Linked DNA regions of Homo sapiens: region 2 is linked to region 1. Evidence: fine-mapped QTL for protein levels in blood plasma. A gene starts in region 1. The other region holds a variant in brackets. All regions are shown on one strand. Distances are between the middles of the regions.

The links. A credible set is the group of variants that fine-mapping cannot tell apart. PIP is the chance, under the fine-mapping model, that this variant and not a neighbour inherited with it causes the effect. Protein levels are from antibody-based Olink assays in UK Biobank. Linkage for the fine-mapping came from a reference panel and not from the study's own genotypes, which makes the PIPs less certain.
Region 2: its variant is the best candidate, but not a certain one, in a credible set for the plasma level of the CRYBB1 protein (UK Biobank, PIP 0.73).

Annotation. Positions count from the first base shown.
Region 1 is chr22:26,612,558-26,624,679 of GRCh38, forward strand. CRYBB1 (crystallin beta B1) reads right to left here and starts at 5,470. Exons shown (of 6, transcript NM_001887.4): 1 at 5,420-5,470; 2 at 3,583-3,781. The coding sequence starts at 3,762. CRYBA4 (crystallin beta A4) reads left to right here and starts at 9,406. Exons shown (of 6, transcript NM_001886.3): 1 at 9,406-9,429; 2 at 10,028-10,078; 3 at 10,677-10,795. The coding sequence starts at 10,040. RefSeq lists enhancers at 1,135-1,813, 4,524-5,201, 5,880-6,555.
Region 2 is chr22:26,625,871-26,640,603 of GRCh38, forward strand. CRYBA4 (crystallin beta A4) reads left to right here. Exons shown (of 6, transcript NM_001886.3): 5 at 2,418-2,560; 6 at 4,470-4,799. The coding sequence ends at 4,617. Among named protein-coding and RNA genes, the nearest start is that of CRYBA4, 11 kb to the left of the region's middle. RefSeq lists a cis regulatory region at 6,606-7,356. The variant G/A (reference allele first, on the strand shown) is at 7,482.

The DNA of each region.
Region 1 (12,122 bases):
GCTCAGGCTGGTCTCGAATTCCTGAGCTCAAATGATTGGCCTGCCTTGGCTTCCCAAAGTGTTGGGATTACAGGCATGAGCCATTGCACCTGGCCTCATGCCCTAATTCTGAAGCTAAGATCTGCGCCATCATTAGGAACTTATGAACCTCCCTTTCAGGCCTTTCTTTGTGCTATTCCTCCTGCCTGGAATGCCTTCTCCACCACACATATCCAGCTTGGAGCTCCCACTGCCTAACTGAAGTTCCCTAATACGCATTCCAGCTCGTTATTCTGTTTTAGGCTCAGGTGCCACCTTCTCCAGGAAGCCTTCTCTGATTGCCCCTTCCTCCATCGGCCTTGGTTGAGCATCCCCCACTGTCCTCTCCCCATTAGCAGCACAACTAACCCACCACACAGTCACTGCTGTTTTGCTTTGGGGTCTCCCTCTCTCTCTGCACTCCCTCTCTCCCATTACCCAGCCCCTCCAAAGACCAAGGACTCCTCCAGGGCAGGGCCTGAGGTTGATCAATTTCTGTATCTCCAGCCCCAGCCCCAGTACCTGCCACAGAGCTGATGCTCAGGAGACACTTGCAAATCCAACCCTCCACAACATAGGGGAAAACTTGAGCTAATCTTCTCTCCTCACTAAGCCTCATGTTTGGTTCCTTGTCCACTTGCTGTTCCAAGTTGGGACAACGTTGCCATTCACATGGACCAAGGCACAATTTTCTGCCTTCTTTGAGCCTCAGTTTCCCCAGCTGTAAGAGGAGGGGAGGTTCATATAACCATGACCCAGCACTTCCACTTCTACCTTTGGTTGCCCAAGAGAAACTCCTGTATGTGTGCCCCGGGATGTTGCGGGAAGTCAGGGACCCCAAACGGAGGAACTGGCTGAAGCCATGGCAGAAGAACGTGGATTGTGAAGATTTCATGGACATTTATTAGTTCCCCAAATTAATACTTTTGTAATTTCTTATGCCTGTCTTTACTGCAATCTGTAAACATAAATTGTAAAGATTTCATGGACACTTATCACTTCCCCAATCAATACCCTTGTGCTTTCCTATGCCTGTCTTTACTTTAATCTCTTAATCCTGTCAGCTGAGGAGGATGTATGTCGCCTCAGGACCGTGTGATAATTGCATTAACTGCACAAATTGTACAGCATGTGTGTTTGAGCAATATGAAATGTGGGCACCTTAAAAAAGAACAGGATAACAGCAATTGTTCAGGGAATAAGAGAGATAACCTTAAACTCTGACCGCCAGTGAGCCGGGCAGAACAGAGCCATATTTCTCTTCTTTCAAAAGCAAATGGGAGAAATATCGCTGAATTCTTTTTCTCAGCATGGAACATCCCTGAGAAAGAGAATGCGCACCTGGGGTTAGGTCTCTAAACTGGCCCCCCTGGGCGTGGTCGTCTCTTATGGTCGACGCTGCAGAGATGAGATAGACTCCAGTCTCCCATAGCTCTCCCAGGCTTATTAGGAAGAGGAAATTCCTGCCTAATAAATTTTGGCCAGACCGGTTGATCTCAAAACCCTGTCTCCTGATAAGATGTTATCAATGACAATGGTGCCCAAAACTTCATTAGCAATTTTAATTTTGCCCCGGTCCTGTGATCCTGTGATCTCTCCCTGCCTCCACTTGCCCTGTGATATTCTATTACCTTGTAAAGTACTTGATGTCTGTGACCCACACCTATTCTCACACTCCCTCCCCTTTTGAAACTCCCTAATAAAAACTTGCTGGTTTTTGCAGCTTGTGGGGCATCACGGAACCTACTGACATGTGATGTCTCCCCCGGACGCCCAGCTTTACAATTTTTCTCTTTTGTACTCTGTCCCTTTATTTCTCAAGCTGGCCGACGCTTAGGAAAAATAGAAAAGAATCTATGTGAATATCGGGGCAGGTTCCCCGATACCAGGAGACAGGGATAAGAACGTCCAAGCCATGCTGTTCACGAGAGCAAAGCTAGCAACCACTGAAATCGTGCTTAGCAGGAAAGAGATGGTCACGCTCTGAAATATCAGGCAGCAGCCAGAATGAATGGCCGGCAGTCATGCGCAACAATATGGATGGATATTAGGGATCTCATAGTAAGTGAAAAGTACAAAGAAAAGCCCAGAATAATCACATTGCATATTTCAATAAATTAAAAACAAGTAAATCGGCCAGTTGCGGTGGCTCACACCTATAATTCCAGCACTTGGGGAGGCGGAGGCTAGGAGTTCGAGACCAGCCTGGATAATATGGCAAAACCCGTCTCATAATTCGGTCTCAAAATAAATGAATAAATAAAACAAGTAAATAAATATACATGTGTATGTGTGTATACATTTTTAAAGGAATAATGCATAAAATTGTATACAAAAGCAAGCAAGCAGATTACAGACACAGGTTGAGGATAGGACAGTATTTCCTGGAGTTGGGGAGGAAAATGATGGACTCAAGGGAGACACCTTAGAGTTAGGTAGAAAGTTTTTAACCAAGTCCTGGCTTTTATATGGGTGGTGGGTTTGTAGGTGCATATTGCATTATTAGAAATTAAATAAAACTAATGATTAAATAGGTACATAAATAAAAACCTGCCACGCACTGACCACATGAGAGCGTGTCATGAACTAGGGGTTGCAAAATGGCCTACTTCTGTGACCTGAGGTTGAAACCACACCAAACCAAATCCCAGGGGACTGGACACCTTGCTCCACAGGATGCCTTTCAGCCCAGACCACCTCGAGCAATTTTGAGGGTCTGAGGCCATCCTGCTGCCCCAGTGAGCCTCCAAGGACAGCTGGTTCCCTGCTGCTAAGCCAGCCCACTTCCTTTTCTTCTTTTTTTTTCTTGCTTTCGATAAACTCTAAGCATGTGCGTGTGCAGGTGTAGCCTGATTGCCAGGTGTCCCTTCAGCTGTGAAGCGGTATGGTTTGGTTGTTGTTATTGCACAACTCAACTATAGGTCCCCTTTTTCTTTCTATTCTTTTCTTTTTTTTTTTGATGGAGTCTCCCTCTGTTGCCCAGGCTGGAGTGCAGTGGCATGATCTCAGCTCACTGCAACCTCCGCCTCCTGGGTTCAAGTGATTCTCCTGCCTCAGCCTCCCAAGTAGCTGGGATTACAGGCGCCCACCACTACGCCTGGCTAATTTTTGTATTTTTAGTAGAGACAGGGTTTCACCATGTTGGCCAGGCTGGTCTCGAACTCCTGACCTCAGGTGATCCACCTGCCTCGGCCTCCCAAAGTGCTGGGATTACAGGCATGAGCCACTGCGCCCGGCCCCACTTTCTCCAAGTGTGTCAGAACCCCTGGCTATTTTATGGGCTCCCAGATTGGCTGGGCCACACTTGTGTCCCAGAAGGAGGAGGGAGGAGGAGGCCAAGGTGAGGGAAAAAGAGAATAGGGACAGAGGATAAGAGTCTGGGGAGGTGGAGAAGAAGAAAAGGGAGAGTAAATAGAAAGGAGAGAAAATAAGCCAAGAAAAAGGAGGAGAAAGAGGTGCGGAGGAGTAAGAGGTGAAAGAGGAAGAGGAGGAGGAGAAGAAGGAGGAGGAGGGAAGGAAGGAAAGAAGGCATGGCACCCAGCCACTGCACCCCCAGGTCCTTACCCTGTAGTTCCCAGGAGGCAGTTCCGCCGCCTTGGCGCTGGTAATAGGCACGGTTGTTGGGGCCAGGGTAGTGCCGGGACTAGGGGATGTTCCTGCAGGTGGGGCCCCCTTCCCCTTGGTGTCAGGCCCTGGGTTCACCGCCACTGTGGCCGAGGCCGAGGCCTTTGCAGCCTGAGACATGGTTCCCGCCTGCAAAAGTCTGTAAAGAAACTCTGGCCTTCAGGGATGACACCCCCAAACTGCCTCCTGCCCTCATAGCCCCACATCCTGTGCTTTCAGCCTCCTTGGAGCTCGTTTCCTCTCTATCTCCTTCTGAAACGGTTAAGCCTGGAAGTTTTTCTTTCATCCCTACTTCCCAGCCAAGACCTTCCCGTCTGGGGGCCACTCATCCCACATATATCCTTCCTCCAGGCTTTTGACCATGCGGTTCCCTCCACTAGCTGTTCCACCCTCCATTACCCCGCTAGGTCCTTCCTTAGCCCCCTGCAATTTTCCACACTGCTTATCACACTGATTTGCTTGTGCAACTCCAATTTGCCTCCCTAGACTAATAACAAGAAGTCCCATTTGGGAGTACTTAAGGTGTGCCAGGCACTGTGACATACATTAATTAACCCATCTGACCATGAACCTCACCCGATGGAGTAGCTGCTATCATGATCCCCTCTGAGCAGCAGGGGGCTGGAGAAGGAAGGGGCCCAGCTCAGGCCCAAACAGCTACTAAGTGGTAGGGCTCTGATTTCAACTCAAGGAAATGGAGCCAGCAACTGGGCTTTTAAAGTATTCTGCCATTTGCTTAATCTGATTTATTCACCGTCCATCCCTAACACTTGCTCTGCACCTGGCACATAGGAGATGCCCAATTAACATTTGTTCAGAGAATGAATGAATGCATGCTCCCAGCTCCTTTCCCCGTCTGCTTCCTCTGAGGGGTTGGTGTATGGGTGCAAATACAGGCCGGGGACTGAGGCTTATGGGAGGACCCAAGAGGATGTATTTACTGCATGTGGAGGGTTCTGAAAATGAGGACTGGGGCTGGGTAGGCTTTGGGTGGAGAGGGCTTTGGTCAATTCCAGTGGTTCCTTGTTGCTTTGGGGTCGTGGACTCCTTTGAATGTTTGATGAATACCTCAACTTTGTCCCCGGACAAAAATAATGCTCTCTTTAACTTTGGAGACAATGTTAAGGGATTTGAGGACCCCCTGCTAGCACAGATTAAGACCCTCTGGTCAAGCTGATTCCCGAACACATTCTGTAAGGCGGAGCTAGTTGGGATAAGCACATCCCTCCCCCAGCCTCCTCCAGGAAGGCTGTGCATATTCTGGGGTGCCCCCTGTTCACCAGGGGTGAGGCCAGACATCTGGACCACATCTGTGGCTTTAAACACTCCCCCAGGGCTGGCAGCTGGACTCATGCCTTCCTGGAGATATTCTCATTCTCTCTCTCTCCCTGCTTCACCCTCTCCCTCTGTTCCTCCTCTCTTCCCTGTCTTTGCCTCTCTATCTGTTTCTTACTTCTCTCCCTCTTTCTGCCTATCTGCCTGTCTGTTTCTCTCCCTCTCTGTTCCTCTCTCCCCCACTATCTCTCCCTCATTGTATCTTTGCTTATCTCTCTATCTGTCCTTTTTAATTATATTTACTTCTCTCTCTATTTCTGTCTTTTCTCACTCTCTCCCCTCTCCCTCTCCCTCCCTTTCTTCCTCTCTCCACTTCCGTCTTTATCTCCATGGCCCTGCTCTCTGACTCTCATGGCACTGCTATCTCTGCCTCCCTCTCTCTGTCTCCCTTTTCTCTTCCCCTCCCCTTCAGCTCTCAGCTGGGCTGTGGGTTCCCTCTTACCTGGGGACTTGCTACTTCCTGCTGGAGGACAGGCAGGCGGGCAGGTGCTATGGGTGACTAGAGTCCGACCCCCCATTTTATAGTCTGGCAGACATCAGGCCCTATAGTCTGTGGCACAAAGGGGAAGCTGGCTCAGCAGGCCTGGGCAGGGAGTGGGGGACTGGGGCCCTGACCTCGCCTGGATCACTGCAGACAGCAGCACTTTCCTTTGTGAGACCAGCACACACAGCAGAAACCCTGGCCACAGCAGCTTCACCTTCCAACCCTACCCTGACTCCTTTCTCAACAACCCCAGCCAGGGATGGGCCCCCAAAAGGGTCCCTGCTGGCTGCCAACATGGGGCAGGGAAAAGGGGAGACCCTGGGAGGCAGGAGACCAGAGTTTGAATCCTGACTCAGCCACTGCGCGCTGTGTGGCTTTTGGTAGGTCTCTACCCCTAGGGGGGCCTCTGTGTCTGCAATTATAAGGTGGGCACGTGTCCCTGTTGGATGCCATATAGAAAAGAAGGTGACAATGAGCACAGAAGCGTTTTGTAAAGGCAGATGTGGGTTTGATATGGACAGCCTTTTTTACGGAGTGCTTACTGTGTGCCGAACCCGTGTTATCTCGGTCAGTCCCCGGGACAATCTGCCTTATTTGGTACTTTCATTATGCCCATTTCACAGAAGAGGAAAGTGAAGGCACAGAGAGGTCAGAGCCAGCCCAGGCCAGCCAGCTCTGGGCCTGTGTGCTTTCTTCTCCTGCTGTCCAGCCTTGACCTTGGCCTGAGGCCCCCTGGCCTGACTTCCTCTTTGTAGGTTGGGGTGGGAATGGGAGAGTCGCACTGTGCTCAGCTGGGTTGGATATCGGAGACCTGGGTCTTTTTCTTTTCCCCACATTGGGCCCCATCCTTTCCTGACCTATCGACAGTGATCCCTCTCGCCACCCCAGTTCCCCGCCTCTACCCAGGCCACGTTATCTGACCTGGAGGACAGTGCTGGTGGCCAGAAATATGACTGCCTGTCCCAGAGCCTCCTGCCCTGGCAAGCCCCAGATGCCCACCACATCTTGTTCACCACTGGCCCCAGCACCTAGCTGGGCCTGGCTAGGTAGAGCTTGGCACATCATGGGTTCTCAGTCAATAACTGGTGACTCAATGGTGGTTCCAATGGATCGGAACAGAAGGTAGGGTACGGAGGAGATAGGGAAACCAAGGCAAGGAGAGAGAAGTAAGGAGGCAGATAGAAGTAACAGACAAAGAGAGAGGTGGAGACAGAGACACAGAGAGGCACAGGGGACATGGACAGTGAAGGAGCGAGAGACGGAGAGACAGAGGTCAAGTTGGGGTGATCAAGCCTCAGGACGGAGGAACAGACGCCAGAAATCACAGGGCCCAATCCTCCCATTTCACAAATGGAGAAACCGAGGCCCAGGTGGAACAAATGACTTCAACATAGTCACATGGCGGGAACTCACAGTACAGCTGGGGTCAGAAGGAGCCTGGGGAGCTGCTCAGCTAGGTCACCTGCAGTCGGCTCCCCAGTCCCAGGCAGGGTATATTGCGGGGGCATCTGGATAGGCTCCTGTCTCTTCTTTTTCGGGGTTCTAGGCTCCCCGTGGAGCCCAGCTCTGTCTTGAACTCTCCCTGGCCTGGAGCCAGCTTTGCCTCTGTCCCTCCACCACCCAGCACCCCCTCGCTTCCTAGCCTCTCCTTGGCCTTTCATCCTGGGCCAAGACTTGGTGGGTGGGGTGTGGGCAGGAACTGCAAGATGGGGTAGCCACTGGAACTGGGGCCAAGACGCCTGTGGTGAGGGCCCACCCACCAGTCTAGGCTTCAAAGCCAGGTCATCTGGGGCAGTTCCGTGCCCCCCCTAAAGCCCCAGGAATGGGCTGTCTGCCAGAGGGTGGGGGCAGAGAAGGGGGATGGCCCACCATGTTGGTGGCTCCACTCTGAGCATTTATTATTATTATTGTATCCTTCATTATATCTTTTTCTTTTTTGCCCTGTCTTATGGAGCCAATTTATTTTCTTTTCTTTTTTTCTTTTCTTTTTTTTTTTTTGCATTGTCCTGTACTCCTCAGTATAAGGATGAAGTCTCTGGGATTAACCCCAATTACGGATAAGGAAACTGAAGCAACTCCCTTTCCTTCCTCTCTCTCAGCCACTTTCTCATAAAAATGGAAATGTAAGATAAAATTGGAACTCACATCTTCTTTACTCATGAACCCAGGCTCTTAAAAACTATGCACCCCTGCTTTTTGATCAACAATTAATAATAATCATCTTTCTTATTAGCAATGGTGATGATGAAGATGATGGAAATACCACAATATTTTTTATGTTGCAGGAGCAATTCCAGCTGCTGTTCATGTGCTATTCACATTTATCCTCACAATCCCCCTGTTTCTTAGACTAATCCCAACTTACCTTGTTACACCCATTTTACACACAAGTAAACTGAGGCTCAGAGTGCGTAAGTAACATGCTTAAAAGTTACCCAGCCAGCACCAGTGGGATGCAAACCCAGGCAGTCTGGCTGTAGAGGGTGCATTGTTAACCTTTCATTTTCATGCCAACCCTTCATCAAAGTCATGCATTCCTTTTTTTTTTTTTTTTTTTTTTTTTTGAGACGGGGTCTTGCTCTGTCACCCAGGGTCAAGAGAAATGGCATGATCTTGGCTCACTGAAACCCCTGCCTCCAGGTTCAAGCAATTCTCCTGCCTCAGCCTCCCTAGTAGCTGGGATTACAGGCGCCCGCGCTACTCCCGGCTAATTTTTGTGTTTTTAGTAGAGACGGGGTTTCACCATGTTGGCCAGCCTGGTCTTGAACTCCTGACCTCAGGTGATCCACCCACCTCGGCCTCCCAAAGTGCTGAGATTACAGGCGTGAGCCATTGCGCCCAGCCTAAAGTCATGCGTTTGATAGAGCTGCATTTCACCCTCTTAAAAGGAAACTGGTGTGGCCACTTTACAGGTCATGAGCAGGACTCAGGTGTCCTCCAGGTCACACGGATGGTAAGAAAGAAGCAGGGCTGGATTTCATCTCAGATGATCTGGTTTCCAGTCATGCTGTTTTCCTATGCTTGTTACACCCATTTTACACACAAGTATGTATGTATGAGGGACCTCTTAGGTCCCTCATACGCCAATTCAGAGGGCAGGGTTTCGGGACAAGAGGCACACAGCAAATTGTACAAGTCCTGGATATTTGGCAAGTGTGCCACAGTTTGCAAAGCATGTTTGCAACTAACAGCTCCTCTATGCTGCCCACAGTGCCATCCGGATTCATCTTCAGGCTTTGTGGACCCAGCAGGCCCTGGCCTAGCCCTCTTCTCCTGCCTCACTTCCCTTCAGGTCCCCTGAGCTCCAGGCCAATTGGGCTACCAGCTCTTTCTTGTACATGTGCCCCAAGTTCCCACCTCTGAACTTTTTCTTAGAATGCCTCTCCTTCCATCTCACTCTGTACATATCTTCCTCATCCTTCAGAGTCTAGTTCAAATGCCTCCTCTAACGGCAAGCCTATCTGGATTGCTTCAACTGGAAGAGAAAGGGGAAAGAGAGAAGGAAAGGAATAGGCATTTCCTGAATGTTTACTCTGTACCAGGCATGTTATGTAACCTCACAACAACTCTGTGATATGGTTTGTTTCTGCCCCATTTTATAGGCAGAAATTGAGGGGAAATGACTCGCTGGAGCTCACATAGCTAGGAAGGATGCTTCTGGACTCCTCATCTAGTGCTCATTCTCCTGCTCTAGTCAGGAACCTTGTGGGGCTGATGAGGGCCAATATTCCACCTCTCTCCTTCTTCGTGGCTGATCCCTGGGGGTGGTGATCTGGTCCTTTCCCTCCCTGCTAAAGCCAGAGCTGCTGACGGCTTGCCATTGGCTCTTCAGCCAGGGCTGGCTTTTGTTTCTGTGGCCCAGTTGCTGAGTCGGGGCTTTGTCTCCCAGGGGCCCCTCTTCCCTCCCTGCCTATAAGAGCCCGACCTCGGCTGGTCTCAGATCTGACATGTTCCCTGGGCCTATCTCGGTAAGTCCCAGGTTTGGAGGAGGGGTGGGATCAGAGTTCTGAGTGAGCATTCTGGGAGGCGAGGAACCCAGGTCCCCAGTCCTAGGGATGTCACTGTGTCATCCTGAATGCCATCCTCATCCTAACCAAGGATGAGCCCCAACCATCAAGACCAGCACCTGCTTCCCTCATTTAAAAACAAATTATTCCTGTAGCCCTATTGCCTAAATTTCCACCATCAGAGCTACCTCTTTGAGCTAGGTGCTGTCTTTGGAAGGGCTCTCTTATGCTGAGCATTTCAGCACTCGCTGGGGTGATGCACCCACCCACCAGCAGCCACAAAAATTTTCCCATAACAAGCAGATAAGAGAATACAGAGTGGGGCTCAGAGTCAATGAGACCCAGCAAGGGTGAGTTTTGAGATGGGGATAGGATGGAAGATGGCATTGGTGACAGATGGAAAGGACAGGAGAGGGACAGGCCAAAGCCATGCATTGCCCCTAGCCCAGTCACTCCTGGACTCCCTATGTGGATCCTGACCAGGTCCAAGCCAGCCATCTGCATAAAGAGGAGAGCAGAGGGTCAGGGTGGAAGATTATAATGTTCTTCTCTTCTGCAGGAAGGGGCCACAATGACCCTGCAATGCACAAAGTCAGCGGGACCCTGGAAGGTAGGAAGAGGCATGGGGAGGGGGTGTTCAGGGGGTATGGGGAGGGTTCAGGTCCCCATGAATCCTAGGAGGGGGGCATTATAAATGCCTATTTCACAGAGGTGCAATCAAGGCTCAGAGTTGAGAAGGGACTTGTATGTCACATACAGGGAGGTTGAATGTGAATTTGGGTCTTCTGGTTCCCAAAGTTGACCTGTTACACTCTTTGGCAGAGGTTGCAGTCTTTGGGCATGATTTCTTTGACCATCTCTGTGTGTGTTTGTTTGTTTTATAAAGCTTTTGGATTTATCATCAGCCTTTAAAAGCCTGGAAGAACCACATAAAAGTCCAGATCTAGTGATTGTCTTGAGAAATTGGAAGGTCTGGCCTGCATTCCCACTTGGCAACCATTGGTGGCACTGGGAAGAGGCCACCCATTTACCTGGCACCTGTGCTGTCTAGTGTCTCACATTTATCACTGCTCTTGCCTTCCTGGCTCCTGGAGGAATCTGAGTTTGCAATCCCTGCTTTACCTGCCAGATCCTGGGGCGAGCCCCCAACCTCTCACCCTTCACGGGACTCTGATGCGGATCTCCACCTTTTTTTTTTCCTGGCACAGATGGTGGTGTGGGATGAGGACGGCTTCCAGGGCCGGCGGCACGAGTTCACGGCCGAGTGCCCCAGCGTGCTGGAGCTTGGCTTCGAGACTGTGCGATCTTTGAAAGTGCTGAGTGGAGCGTGAGTCTAGGGGGACACTGAGTTGGGGTAGAGGGTGGACAGGAAGGGACCTAGAGACGGGTGCTAGGACTTTTAGATATTCTAGGTCCCCTCTCCCTAGGCTCTTACTGTTGTGCCCTCCTGAAGTACTGAGGAGTGTGCAGGACTGCCATGTAAGATTATGCAGGTTGCGCACTGCCCAACAGTAGGAGGGTGCCATTTACACAGACCCTGCCCACTGGATGAGGCAGTTCTGCAGGAGATCCTTAGAATCCAGTGTTGGATCTAAAAATGTCCCTCCCAGCCGTAAATTGAAAGCCAACATCACCCGCCTAAAGTAGAAGGTAACTGTAAAAATAAACATAATGTTTTAATGCTATTAATTTTTAGCTAAATAGTCTTGCTGCTAAGCATGTGGCCTGATCATTTTTTGTAAAAAAAAAAAAAATTAAAAAACAAAAAAGAGAGTGAGAGAGAGAGATTAGTGAGACACAGAGAGGTGTTAAGGACACACTAATAACACACCAAGACTTTCTAGACCAGTGTCATTCAGTGGACCTGTCTGCAATGATGGAGATGTTCTACATCTACACCATCCATTTCAGAGCCACTGGCCAGATGTGACCATTGAGGATTTGAAAGGTAGCCAGCATGAGTAGAGAACTGAATCTTGTTTAATCTTAATTTATTTAAGTTTAAATTTAATTAGCTACATATGGCCAGTGGCTACCATATTAGATAGAAGGTTCTAGAAGGTTGGAAAGCAGGTAGAAAGGAGATGTGGCCAGTAGCTACCATATTGGATAGAAGGCTCTAGAAGTTTGGAAAGTAGTTGGAAAGATGTGGCCAGTAGCTACCATATTGGATAGAAGTTTCTAGAAGGCAGGAAAGTAAATAGAAAGGAGGTGTGGCCAGTAGCTACCATACTGGATAAAAGTTCTAGAAGTTTGGAAAGTAGATCGAAAGGAGATGTGGCCAGTAGCTTCCATATTGGATAGAAGGTTCTAGAAGGTTGGAAAGTAGCTAGAAAGGCAATGTGGCCAGTAGCTACCATATTGGATAGAAGGTTCTAGAAAGTTGGAAAGTAGATAGACAGGAGATGTGGCCAGTAGCTACCATATTGGATAGAAGGTTGTAGAAGTTTGGAAAGTAGATAGGAGATTTGGAGTCACTTAATGCTACACCTGTGAGTGCCACCTGAGGTCATCTTGGGTGATTTTTGCACATCTCATGCTTTAGTAAATACTCTTTTAGCTTCTGATTTGTGCAGGTGGGGAATGGGGGTCAGATGGGAACAGAGGCTTTCTAGGGGTATGTCCAGCAGGCTGACAGACTCAGCCAGTAAGCA
Region 2 (14,733 bases), 15 kb after region 1:
CCTGGTTGTGATAGGAGCCCCTGCCAGTTTTGTGCCCTTTTTTTTTTGTGATTCAGGGACCCTGAGAGAATCTGGGTACCAGGGATGGTAGGGCCAAGTGGAGAGGAAAGGTTTCATTTCTTGCTCCTAATTCAGCATCAGTGCTCCTGATCTTACATTTTACTGCTGTTTTTGGAGTGTGGGTGGAGGTGGGCATTATTATTCCCATCTCACCAATGAAAACATTGAGGCTCAGAAAGGTGTATTTTAGGCTGGGCATGGTGGCTCACACCTGTAATCCCAGCACTTTGGGAGGCCAAGGCGGGTAGATCACTTGAGGCCAGGAGTTCAAGATCAGCTTGGCCAACATGGTGAAACCCTGTCTCTACTGAAAATACAAAAAAATTAGTTGAGTGTGGTGGCACATGCCTGTAGTCCCAGCTACTCAGGAGGCTGAGGCAGGAGAATCACTTGAACCCGGGAGACAGAGGTTGCAGTGAGCCAAGATCGCACCACTGCATTCCAGCCTGGGCGCCAGAGCAAGACTCTGTCTCAAAACAAAACAAAACAAAAAAACAAAAACAAACAAACAAACACAAAAACAACAAAGTGTGTTTTATTTTTCAATTCTTATTGATTTAAAATGACATAAGTCACCATATTTACCATCCAAAATTCTGAAGGAAAATCCTGCTATGGTCAGGGTTGAGTATCCCTTACCTGAAATGCTTGGGACCAGAAGTGTTTTGGATTTTGAATATTTTCCCCAGATTTTGCAATATTTGTAATACTTACAGTTGAGCAGCCTGAATCCAAAAATCCAAAATCTGAAATACTGCAGTGAGCATTCTTTGAGTGTCATGTCGTCACTCAAAAAGTTTTAGATTTTGGAGCATTTTGGATTTCGGATTTTTAGGTTAGGGATGTTCAACCTATACATTTGTGTCTCTATGTATATACACATCCAAATCAACATCTACATCTATATCTGTATAATCTATATATCTTATCTATATTGCACACATAATTTTGTCATAAAATTGGAATCATAATGAATCTAAGGCTTGGAAACTAGCTTTTCTCACTGAGCAAATGTGTCGCAATCATCAGTCCAGGTGATTAAATCTCACTTCCATCGTTTTTCATAGCTCCCTAGTATTCTGTTTTGTGAATAAGTCCATTTGTTCATTTATTCTGCAAACAGTCTAGATATTGTGCTAATATAGGGACCCGTGGCGGGCTGCAACAGAAACAATCCCTCATTCCCAGCAGTTTGCAACTCCTGATTTCATTTAGTCCTCAAAAGAACCCTGAAAAATGGGTAGGGTTAGTTTCATTTTATAGATACAGGAACAGAGGCTCAGAAATCCTGTCTAACCTCAGTCAGTTGGTAAGTGGCAGCTGCCTCCTAGCAGGAAGGATTTGAGATGATATCTCTACACCTCCTTTCTTTCCTTCTTTTTTCTTTTCTTTTCTTTTCCTTTCCCCTCCCTCCCTCCCTCCCTCCCTCCTTTCTTTCTTTCTTTCTTTCTTTCTTTCTTTCTTTCTTTCTTTCTTTCTTTCTTTCTTTCTTTCTTTTTCTTTCTTTCTTTCTTTCCTTCTTTCTTTTTCTTTCTTTCTTTCTTTCTCTTTCTTTCCTTTTCTTTCTTTCTTTCTTTCTTTCTTTCTTTCTTTCTCTTTCTTTCCTTTTCTTTCTTTCTTTCCTTCTTTCATTCTCTGTCTTTCTTTTTCTTTCTTTTTCTCTTTCTTTCTTTCTCTTTCTCTCTCTCTCCTTCCTTCCTTCCTTCTCTCTCTCTCTTTCTTTCTTTCTTTCTTTTGATGGAGTTTTTGCTTTTGTTGTCCAGGCTGGAGTGCAATGCCACAATCTCGGCTCACTGCAACCTCTGCCTCCCAGGTTCAAGCGATTCTCCTGCCTCAGTCTCCCAAGTAGCTGAGATTACAGGCATGTGCCACCACGCTTGGCTAATTTTTTGTATTTAGTAGAGACAGGGTTTCACCATGTTCGTCGGGCTGGTCTTGAACTCCTGACCTCAGGTGATCCACCCTCCTCGGCCTCCCAAAATGCTGGGATTATAGGCGTGAGCCACCGCGCCGGGCCTCTACACCCTTTTTCTTAACCACAGTGTAATGCCTCAGCTTACCACTGGATCCCCAATTTTGGACATAAAAGTTGACTCCTTTTTTTGTTTGTTTGTTTTTGAAAAAACTGTTATGATGAACATTCTTGCAGCCTATTTATTCCATGATTATTTTCTTTGTGGAAATTTCTGGAAGGGCAAATGGCAAGGTTTCTGGTACCTGTTGCCTTATTGCCCTTCCAAAAGGTTTGCAAGGAAGGCTGATTTGGGAGACAAGGGCAGGGAGTGTGGAGGCCAGGAGAGGCTCCTGGGTTTCCAACTGGGAGCCTGCTGGTCTGACTGTGTTCCCTGTTCCTGTAGAACCACCGTGACTCGAGGCTGACAATCTTCGAGCAAGAGAACTTCCTGGGCAAGAAAGGAGAGCTGAGCGATGACTATCCTTCCCTCCAGGCCATGGGATGGGAAGGCAATGAAGTAGGGTCCTTCCACGTCCACTCTGGGGCGTAAGTGTATTCAAGGCTCTACCTGGCAGGGGAGGGGCTACTGGGAGGGGTAGGTGTACCTCCTGTGAAAACTGTGTGCTGGGGACTTTTGTGCTCTGATGCCCACATTCCAGAGGAGAACACTGAGGCACAGGGAGGTATCAGGCAGAATTTGAGGGACTGAAACCCAGATCAAACTGGTTTGAGCCCAGAAGATATTTATCAGCCCCTGTAATTAGCTTCAAGCATAGCTGGATCCAGGTACTACAGCAGGTATCTCTCTCCCCCCACAACCCCCAACCTGTTGCCCTGCCTGCCTCTGTGTGACTATATTCTTAGACAAGCTCTTCCTGTGTGAAGGCAAAGGTGGCGGCTTCATCGTTACATCCAGCCCTAGGGAAAGACAGTGTCCAGGCTCAGTGATTCTATTAAAGGTTCCAAGAAAGGTGCTCATTGGTCCAGCTGGGTCCTGTGCTCAACTCTGAACCAATCATCATGCCCATAGGAATGGGGTGTTCTGATTGGCTAGGTTTGGTCATGTGGTCCATTGCTAGATTCAGCCTCATTTTCTCACCTTGGCTGAGAGTGAGAGGCCACAGGCTCTTTGGCTAGAAGAGGGGAGAATGAATGCCCCTAGCCATAAAACACAGGTGTGGCTCCAGCAACCTGCTCAAAGTCCATCAGCAGGTAGGTAACAATCCAGCTTCAAACTCAGCACTGACTGGCCCTTTCCTTTCCACCCAGGAGGTGGCAGGTGAAGGCTAAGGTGTGAGATTCTTATTTAGGGAGGACATCAGAACCACTTTCTGAGGTGCCCCTTGGCTCCTGGTAGGCAGGGGGCAAAGATGGGAGGTAGGGTTTTTCATCTTTTTTTTTTTTCTTTTTTTGGCTTTAGTTTTCTCAGGAACCACCAAAGAATCATGTTGTTTTAGAGTAAGAGGGACCCCTTGTGATTCTTGAGTTCACTTCCTCTTTTACAGAAAGGGAAATGGAGGCTTGGAAAACCAGACACCAATCCTTGTCCTGAACAGAGTAGAAATCAATGAGTTGGGCCAGACACGGTGGCTCACGCCTGTAATCCCAGCCCTTTGGGAGGCTGAGGTGGGCGGATCACCTGAGGTCAGGAGTTCGAGACCAGCCTGGCCAACATGGTGAAAGCCCGTCTCTACTAAAAATACAAAAAATTAGCTGGGTGTCGTGGCTATGCCTCTAGTCCCAGCCACTCGGATGAGGCAGAATTACTTGAACCCAGGAGGCAGAGGTTGCAGTGAGCCGAGGTCATGCCACGGCACTCCAGTCTGGGCAACAGAGTGAGACTCTGTCTCAAAAAAAAAAAAAAAAAAAAAATCAATGAATTGAAATGATAGCTTTTTTTCTTGGAAGTGCCTCTGGATAAGGAAGGAGGGAGAAAGGGGAAAGAACAAGACTTCCCATTCCTTCACTTGTTCACTTATTCAGCAAATATTTAGGAACCCCTTCTTCCTTGCTAGACTTTTATATATTTATGCAGGTGGTGATAACGATGAACAAAACATACACGTTCCTACACTCAGGAGCTTGCCTGCTGGCAGGGGAGGCTGATATTTTACAAATAATTTGAAAACTATCGAATTACATGAGTGCTACAAAGGTATAATAAGGGACTGTGGCCTGATTTGGGGAACGAGTCAGATTGCCCTCATAATTAAGATGAGCCATGAAGGACAAATACAACTTGTCTAGGAAAAGAAAGGCTGGGATGGTGCTTCTGGCAAAGGGAATGGCATGATCAAAGGCCCTGTGGTAGGGGAGAGAGCATGGCACATTGTGAGCACTGAAGAAAGGCCAGGATGGCTGGAATTGTGTGCGTGTGCATAGATCCCTTTGCCCCTGTGTTGATCACCATGCTGGTGTCTCTGTAGAGTAACTGTCTGCCTTTTCTCTTTTCCAGCTGGGTTTGCTCCCAGTTTCCGGGCTACCGAGGATTTCAGTATGTGCTGGAATGCGATCACCATTCCGGTGACTACAAACATTTCCGGGAGTGGGGCTCTCATGCCCCGACCTTCCAGGTGCAGAGCATCCGCAGGATCCAGCAGTGAACAGGGGTGCGGCACGGAGGAGCGCATGCGTGCTTATCTGCAATGGAGGCGCTCTGGAGGCTGTGGTGTGTTCTCTCCTTCTGCCTCCCCCTGTAACCTGTGTGAACCCAGCACCCATGTGAACTGGTCCGTGCACAGTCAGCACAAAAAACTCAAACGAATAAAAAAGAGAAAGTCTGGTATTAGTTGTGCTTTTCAATTTTATTAATCTTTTCAAAGAACCGGTTTTTAGCCTTGTTTTCTCTATCATTATTCCACTGATTTTTACTCTTAACTTCAGTATTTCCTTTCTTCTATTTACTTCAGGCCTACTTTGTTCTTAGTTTTTCTAGCTTTTTTTTAAGGCAGACTTCTGGGTCATTAATTTTAGGCCTCTCTTTCCCCCACCCAGTACGGTCATTTAGCTATAAATTTCCCTCCAAGTATGGCTTTAGCTGCTTCCCACAAATATTAATTTGATGTGTTTTCATTGTCATTCAGTTTGATATTTTCTAGTTTCACTTGTGGTTTTTTTTTTTTCTTTTGACCTATGGGCTATTTAAAGGGATGTTATTTAAATTCCAAATACTTTAGGATTTTCTAGGTGTTTATTGTTATTGGTGTGTTTTTAAAGACCAATGTGGTCGGAGAACATATTCCTTAAGATTTAAGTCTTCTGCAATGAATTAAGACTTATTTTATGGCCCAGCACATGGTTTTTGTATTTTAATTTTATTTTTTGTTTGTTTGTTTGTTTTGTTTTTAATGAGTCAAGGTTTCACTCGTCACCCAGGCTGGAGTGCAGTGGTGCAATCTTGTCTCACTGCAGCCTCGACCTCCCAGGTTCAAGCAATTCTGCCTTAGCCCCACAAGCAGCTGAGATTACAGGTGTGTGCCACCACACCTGGTAATTTTTGTATTTGGTAGTGACAGCGTTCGCCATGTTGCCCAAGCTTGTCTTGAACTCCTGAGCTCAGGACATCTGCCTGCCTCAGCCTACCAAAGTGCCAGGATTACAGGCCTGAGCCACTGCTCCTGGCCACATGGTCTATCTTTGAAAGGCTTGGTAGTACACTTGAAAACTATTTATATTCTGCAGTTATTGGGTACAGTGTTCTGTAAATGTCAGATCAAATTTGTTAACAGTGTTGATGCGATTTTTCTATACCCTTGCTGATTTTTTTTTTTTTTTTTGAGACAGGATCTCATTCTGTCACCCAGGCAGGAGTATAATGGCACAATCATAGTTCACCGCAGCTTGTTTTTAAAAAATCAATTTTAGTGAATTACATAGAAAGAATCATTGATTATTTGGATTTATCTGTTTCTTACCTTAGTTTTGTCTATTTTTGCTTCCTGATTTTTTTTTTCCTTCAGGAATTGTGATGCTCTGTTGTTAGGTGTACATATATTTATGATTGCTATGTCTTCTTGATAAATTGTTCCTAGCTTGTGGTTTTCAAAGCCACGCATGGAGAGTCAGTTCTCTCCCCTAGCAAAACTTCTTTTCACGCGCGTCCGTGTGAAGAGACCACCAAACAGGCTTTGTGTGAGCAATATGGCTGTTTATTTCACCTGGGTGCAGGCGGGCTGAGTCCAAAAAGAGAGTCAGCGAAGGGAGATAGGGGTGGGGCCATTTTATAGGATTTGGGAAGGTAATGGAAAATTACAGTCAAAGGGGGTTGTTCTCTGGTGGGCAGGGGTGGATCTCACAAAGTACTTTCTCAAGGGTGGGGAGAATTACAAAGAACCTTCTTAAGGGTGGGGGAGACTACAAAGTACCTTCTTAAGGGTGGGGGAGATTACAAAGTACATTGATCAGTTAGGGTGGGGCAGGAACAAATCACAATGGTGGAATGTCATCAGTTAAGGCTGTTTTTACTTCTTTTGTGGATCTTCAGTTACTTCAGGCCATCTGGATGTATACGTGCAAGTCACAGGGGATGCGATGGCTTGGGCTCAGAGGCCTGACACTTCTCATACCTTTTTTCTCTCTTCCCAATTCTCTCTCTCACACACACTACCCTGGAGTTTCTCATTTAACACCCTCCATGCTCCAAAGAAAGCCTATAAAACAAAGAAACCCCTGTTTCACTTGAAGACTAAGTGGCAGGATTGGTCTCTTCTATCTCTCTTTTTCTCCTCCCCTCCTTACTTTCTCCTGGTTCTGCATTTTATAGGTTGTCTAAACCTCTCTCATGAGCCCTCTAGCTCTTGTTTCAGGCTCTCTTGGCCCATCTTCCTCTGCCCACAAATGTCCCTGATCAGTCTGATAGGGACAGGAAGGGGTGGGGACCAGAACATTCTGCTGGAAAAGATAACATTATCTGGCTCAGGAAGGGGAGGGGAATGTTTAGGAACATTTGCGCCTCAGTAAATTTTAACTCCTCATTGTATCGTACCATTTATTCAACAGATCATTTGCCTGGGACATACAATGGTAAACATGACACCTAAAGTTTTTTCTCTCACTCAGTTTAATGGGGAATGAATGCGGAAAAGTACAGAGCTGTTTGCAAATATTCTATGATAGGGGCTGTGGGGGCGGGAAGCATGGGGTTGGGGGGCGGACCCTTCTTGTGCCTACCTCTACTCAGACCGTCCCAGAACATCTGACCACTGCTTGACACCTTGATGTGAACGTCTAATACACATCTCAAACAAAACCGGACCAAACATAACTGAAGCTACACTTTTCAAGTTGTTCAGGCTAAATGTCTGGAATGATCCATAACCCTTCTCTTTCTCTCACACCTCACATTCTAATCCATTGGCAATTCCTACTAGCTCTACTCTTTTTTTTTTTTTTTAGATGGCATCTTGCTTTGTCCCCAGGCTGGAGTGCAGTGGCGCGATCTCAGCTCACTGCAACCTCTGCCTCCCAG[G/A]TTCAAGTGATTCTCCTGCCTCAGCCCCCCAAGTAGCTAGGATTACAGGCATGTGCATCACACCCAGCTAATTTTTGCGTTTTTTGTAGAGACAGGGTTTCACCATGTTGACCAGGCTGGTCTCGAACTCCTGACCTCAAGTGATTTGCCTGCCTCGGCCTCCCAAAGTGCTGAGATTATAGGCATGAGCCACGGCACCCAGCCACTAGCTCTACTCTTAATATGTATTAGAATCCAACCCACTCATCATGCCCACTGCTGCCATTCTGGTCCCAGCCACCCTCTTCTCTCTCCTTCTCATAGTCCCTCTGCTTTTGTCTTTGCCCATGAGTGATCTGCTCTCTGCCCAGCATTCAGAGTGGTCCTGCTAGAAACGTAAGGCAGATCTTGTCACACTCCTGCTTAAAATCCTCCCATGCTCCCCACCATGCCAAGAAAACAACAATAAAAAAACCCAGTATTATTCCCAGTCCTGTGAAGCTTGTCATCATCTGCATCTCCCCACTCTCCCCACAACCTATTTTGATCTCATGTCCCTGTATTGGTTGTTCTTTAAAGATGCCAGGTGGCTAACATCTGTAATCCCAACATTTTGGGAGGCCAAGGTGGTAGGATCCTTTGAGCCCAGGAGTTCAAGACCAGCCTGGGCAACATACTGAGATCCCATCTCTACATAAAAAATTTTAAAAAGTTAGCCAGGTCTGGTGGCGTGCACCTGTGGCCCTAGCTACTTGGGAGGCTGAGGTGGGAGGATCACTTAAGCCTGGGAGGTTGAGGCTGAAGTGAGCCGTGATCGTGCCACTGCATTCCAGCCTGGGCGAGGAGAGACACTGTATCAAAAAAAAAAAAAAAAAAAAAGCACCCCGAAAGAACAACAACAACAAAAAGTCAGGTGCCGTGGCTCATGCTTGTAATCCCAGCACTTTGGGAGGCTGAGGTGGGAGAATCACTTGAGCCCAGGAGTTTGAGACCAGCCTGGGCAACATAGCAAGACCCTGTCTCTGTATTTAAAAAAACAAAGAAGAAGAAGAAGAGGGCAAGTGTATGAGTCTGCTCCAGTTGCTATAACACAATACCACAGCCTGGGTGACTTAAACCACAGAAATATTTCTCATAGTTCTTGAGACTGGATCCCAAGATAGAGGTGTCGGCAAGGCTGGTTTTTCCTGAGACCTCTCTCCATGGCTAGTAGATGGCCCCTTTCTCCCTGCATCTTCTTTTATTATTATTATTGTTATTATTATTATTATTATTATTATTATTAAGACAGAGTCTCACTCTGTTGCCCAGGCTGGAGTGCAGTGGTGAGATCTTGGCTCGCTGCAGTCTCCGCCTCCCAGGTTCAAGAGTTTCTCCTGCTTCAGCCTCTCGAGTAGCTAGAATTACAGGCGTGTGCCACCATGCCTGGCTAATTTTTGTGTTTTTAGTAGAGACAGGGTTTTGCCATGTTGGCCAGGCTGATCTTGAACTCCTGACTTCAGGTGATCTGCCTGCCTTCGCCTCCCAAAGTGCTGGGATTACAGTTGTGAGCCACCTTGCCCAGCCTCTTCCTGAATCTTCACATGGTCTTGTCGCTATGCACATGCATCCCAGCTGCCTCTTCCTCCAACAGGACACCAGTCCTGTTGGATTAGGGCCCCGCCCTAATGGTCTCATTTAAACTTCATCACCTCTTTCAACACTTTACCTTCAAATACAGTCACATTCCGAGGTACTGGGGGTTTGGGACTTCAACATATGAATTTTAGGGGGACATAGTTCGGTCAAACACTCTCCCATCTGAGCTATTTCAGCTGCTAGAGGGGCACACAGTCCAGCCCATAACCCAGGCTCATTCCCATCTGAGGTTTTCAGCTTGTGCTGTTCCCTCTTCCTAGAACACTCTTCCCTCTGCTATTTCCCATCAACACTCTCCCGTAGAGCCAGATTCATAGACTGTCAGACCTTCTAGATCTGGATCTAGAACAAGGACGCTTCTAGATCATCAAGTCTAGCATTTCCCAACATTTTGTCTTTCCTTGTCATCCCCCTAGAGAGTCTTTTTAGATGTTATTTTCCTACACCTCCCCCCATGAAGTTTTGTTTTTAGAGATGGGGTCTCATCATTTTGCCCAGGCTGGTCTTGAACTCCTGGGCTCAAGTGATCTTCCCACCCTGGCTTCCCAAAGTGCTGGGATTACAGGTGTGAGCCACCACACCTGACCCCACCCCATGAAGTTTTAATATCACAAATATAAAGTATGTAATATACGTCTGTACAAACTCTGTATATATATCTGTGTTTTATACATAAAGAGTAAGATGGTTTTTTTGCTTCCCAAGATCAATTTTCACCTCTTGGGGGTCCTACTGAAGTACTGGGGGTTGGGGCTTCAACAACATTCTTAACAATATTGAGAATGCATAATTTTATCTCATCGTGTGTGTGTGTGTGTGTGTGTGTGTGAGAGACAGCATCTCACTCTGTCACCCAGGCTGGAGTGCAGTGGCACAATCTCGGCTCACTGCAACCTCTGCCTCCCGGGCTCCAGCAGTCCTCCCACCTCAGCCTCCCAAGCAGCTGGGACTAAACTATAGGCCTATGACACCATGCCCAGGTTTTTTGTTTTTTGCAGAGACTGGGTTTTGCCATGTTGCCCAGGCTGGTCTCGCACACCTTGGCTCAAGCAATCCGCCTGCTTCACCCTCCCAAATTGTTAGGATTACAGGCATGAGCCACCACACCTGGCCTTCATCCCTTTTTAACACGTAGGGAAATGGAAACCCAGGGAAGTGTGGGGACTTGATCAAGGCCATACAGCAAGTTAAAGGCAAAGCCAGGATTCAGACACAGACTTGTTCATTCATTCGTTCATTCATTCATTAAACATGTATCAAATGTCTGCTATGTACCAAACACTGTTACAGGTTCCAGGATCTAACAGGGAACAAAGATAAAATCCCTTGCCTTGGGGAATTTATATAATTGTCCAGGGATACAGATATTTCCCCTATACCTCCATGGCTGCTCAGTCAGGATTTTTCAGACTGTTACACAGATGTTGTAACATTGTTCTTTGAAAAAAAAAATCATGTGCTTTAGTTTTGGGTATTGTTGGTGTCCACACTGCAGGACTTCTCAGTGCCTACAATAGTTTAACATGTATTGTGAATCTCTGGAAGGGAGAATAGAATATTCAGAGTTTTCCAAATTTATTTGACCACAGAACAATTATGAACTTGTTCTTTCCCTTCTGTGGAGCACCTTGCATTATGAGTGGCCTGTGGAACATAAGGTAGGAAATGCTAGAGTTAGCTAGGATAGCCACTCACAGCCTAGTATGAATTAGTTTCCAAACGAGCTTTATGAAATGGACTGTGGAAGTTGTAAGTGTTGCTGTAGGGGCAGGGGTACTGTCCAGGAAGGGGTTCCATGGTCAGTCCTAGGGAAATGGGATTAGGAAGACATAGGGGTGAGGACAATTTAGAGAGGCCCATGAAGTCAATCTCTGTGGACTCTGAGGCCCAGAATGAGGGCTGGGCCTGGCTACCATCTTCCAGCTAGAAGTTTCCTCACTCAGAGCCCCTGAGGCCCTAGAAGGCACTGGATGTAGAGGGCTCTGCTGCACCTACCACAGAGAGGCCACTGTTTGACTTTGACAGGAAGACTGAGTTGGCACCAGCCTCCAGAAGAGGCCATCATGGGTTTGGGTTTGCATCCTGGGTTTACCAGCATGTAACCCCAGTTTCCTCATCTTTTAATGGAGAAATTCTCATCTCCTTGCTTGCAAAAAGTTAAATGATATATTATATATATGCCTGTGCCCAGGGTACACACAAAGAACTTGGTAAGCTCTCAGTAAAGGTTGATGGAAATTGTTAGTATCATTCTTAATATTGTTATTAGTATTATTATACATTTCTCGGTCCCTTTGCTTTGACCTCCTCCCTTATCTCCACCCAAAACCCTTTACCCAAGCATACCTTTCTCAGAATAATGATGATAATAATATCGATGATACATATTGTGTTTATCCCTTTCACATGTGATATAATTTAAACCTCACAGGGCCGGGCCTGGTGGCTCACGCCTGTAATCCCAGCACTTTGGGAGGCCGACGCGGGTGGATCACGAGGTCAGGAGATCGAGACCATCCTGGCTAACACGGTGAAACCCCGTCTCTACTAAAAATACAAAAAAATTAGCCGGGTGTGGTGGCGGGCACCTGTAGTCCCAGCTACTCGGGAGGCTGAGGCAGGAGAATGGCATGAAGCCTGGAGGTGGAGCTTGCAATGAGCCGAGATTGCACCACTGCACTCCAGCCTGGGGGACAGAGCGAGACTCCATCTCAAAAAAAACCAAAAAACAAAAAAACAAAAAAACCTCACAGTAACTTCTTTATGCAATTATTGTCTATTTAAAGCAGAGACGTGAGGCTCAGAGGCTCTGAGAGTTCAAGCAACTTGCCTGAGACCACCCAGCCTGCAGGACCATTGAGCCCACCGTAGGTTGTGCAAGGTTTTGGGGGGTGGATGAAAGAGATAATGGGCACAAATAAAATGTATAAACAATAAGTTGCTGGGTTCATGTCCTCCCTTTAAAGAGTTAAACAAGGGGCTGGGTGTGGTGGCTCGTGCCTGTAATCCCAGCACTTTGGGAGGCCGAGGCAGGCGGAACACGAGGTCAGGAGTTTGAGATCAGCCTGATCAACATGGTGAAACCCCGACTCTACTAAAAATACGAAAATTAGCCAGGTGTGGTGGTGTGTACCTGTAATCCCAGCTCCTCGGGAGGCTAAGGCAGGAGAATCGCTTGAACCTGGGAGGCAGAGGTTACAGTGAGCCGAGATGGTGCCACTACACTCCAGCCTGGGTGACAGAGCAAGGCTCCATCTCAGGAGAAAAAAAAAAAAAAGCCCTTCACACTTTAGTATTAACAACTATAGAGTTTCTTATAGGAAAGCCTCAGGTCCTTGGGCAAAGCGGGCCATACTTGCTGCAGGAAGGAAGGAAGGAAGGAGTGGAGGAAGGAGGGAGGGAAAAAGGGAGGAAGGAATGAGGGAGGAAAGGAAGGGAGGGAGAGAGAGAGGAAGGAGGGAAAGAAGGAAGGAAGGAAGGAAATTGAAATTTGGTGGTGATCATTTTAGGAGCCACCCCAGTTAGAGCCAGGAGTAAGGCTGGCAACCATAAAAAATGGGAGCCCAAATGTGAGCTGATGCTAGAGCAACAGACAATAAAGAGACAATTTGTCAGGGGCGATCTTGAGAGGGGAGATAACAGAGCATGAAATTATTTTTCATGTCTTGCCAGGGGACCAATTTTCTTAGGTTATGAAAGAAAGAGAGCTTAAATTATTGATGCTATTTGGTCAGAAGTGAGTGGTAGGCATGGAACACCCATCACCTGGAACAATGCACACAGCCGACAGGACTGAACACAGGGTCCAGGGCTGTGGATCCCAAACCAGCAACCTCTTTGCCCAGAGAGGGAAGGGGACTTGTTCAAGACCACACAGTAGGCACTATCCATGTTGCTCCTTGCAGCCTGTTCCCTAGGTGCTCACACCTGTGAGTAGGTGATACAGCACAGAAGAAAAGACACCGGGTGTTGCACACACCTGGGTGTGAATCCTGGATCCTGTGTTTACCAGGTAAGGTGATCTTCAGTGAGCTGCTTTGCCCCACTGAGCCTCAGTTTCCTCGCCTCTTAAAGAGGAAGGCTGTTATGAGGGTTCGAGGAGTTGATACCTGGAAAAATGCTTTGAAAATAATCCACAATGTGAGCCTTCTCTTTTTTTCTTTTTTGAGACTGGGTCTTGCTCTGTCACAAAGACTGGAGTGCAGGAGCAATCACAGCTCACTGCAGCCTCTACCTCCTCGGCTCAAGTGATCCTCCCACCTCAGCCCCCTGAGTAGCTGGGCCATGCCTGGGTAATTTTTAAACTCTTTTTGTAGAGATAGGTCTCACTATATTTCCCAGGCTGATCTCAAACTCTCGGGCTCAAGTGATCTGCCCATTCTGGCTTCCAAAAGTGCTGGGATTACAGGCTTGAGCCACCGTGCCCGCCTCTCTTTCTTTCTTTAAAAAAAAAAAAAGATTTATTTTAAAAATTGTATTTTTTTTTTTTTAAACTTAGTTTTGCTCTTGTTGCCCGGGCTGGAGTGCAATGGCGTGATCAATCATAAGTCACTGCAACCTCTGCCTCCCGGGTTCAAACGATTCTCCTGCCTCAGCCTCCCGAGTAGCTAGCATTACAGGCATGTGCCACCACACCCAACTAATTTTGTATTTTTAGTAGAGATGAGGTTTCACCATGTTGGTCAGGCTGGTCTTGAACTTCAGACCTCAGGTGATCCGCCCGCCTCGGCCCCCCAAAGTGCTGGGATTACAGGCGTGAGCCACCGCACCTGGCCAAAAAATTGTATTTTTAATTGACATATAACAATTATATACATACATAGGGTACAATGTGATGTTTTGATATGTGTTTACAATGTGGAATGATTAAACTGGGCTAATTAACAAATTCATCACCTCACATACTTATTTTTTTGTGATGAACACATTTAAAATCTACGCTTAGCAATTTTGAAATATACAATGCACTAGTATTTATTATAGTCACCATGCTGTGCAACAGATCACTAGAGTTTATTTCTCCTGTTTAACTGAAACTTTGCACCCTCTGATCGATGTCTCCCCTTTCTCCCCTTTCCCCCTCCACCCCCTCCTCCAGCTTCTGGTAACCACCGTTCCACTCTCTACTTTGATGAGTTCAACTTCTTTAGATTCCACATATGAGTGAGATCATACGGTATTTGTCTTCTGTGCCTGCCTTATTTCACTTAGCATAATGTCCTCCAGGTTTATCCATGCTGTCACCAATGGCAGGATTAACCTCCTTTTTCTTTCTTCCTTTTTTTTTTTGAGATGGACTCTCTCTCTGTTGCCCAGGCTGGAGTGCAGTGGCTTGATCCCGGCTCACTGCAACCGCCACCACCTGGGTTCAAGCGATTCTCCTGCCTCAGCCTCCCGCGTAGCTGGGATTACAGACACTTGCCACCACGCCTGGCTAATTTTTGTATTTTTAGTAGAGACAGGGCTTTGTTACATTGGGCAGGCTGGTCTTGAACTCCTGACCTCAGGTGACCTGCCCACCTTGGCTTCCCAATAACCTCCTTTTTTAGCCATTGTGCATATAGACACCACATTTAAAAAATCCATTCATCTGTTGATGGACAGATGAATGGACTGTAGATTGATTCCTGTCTTG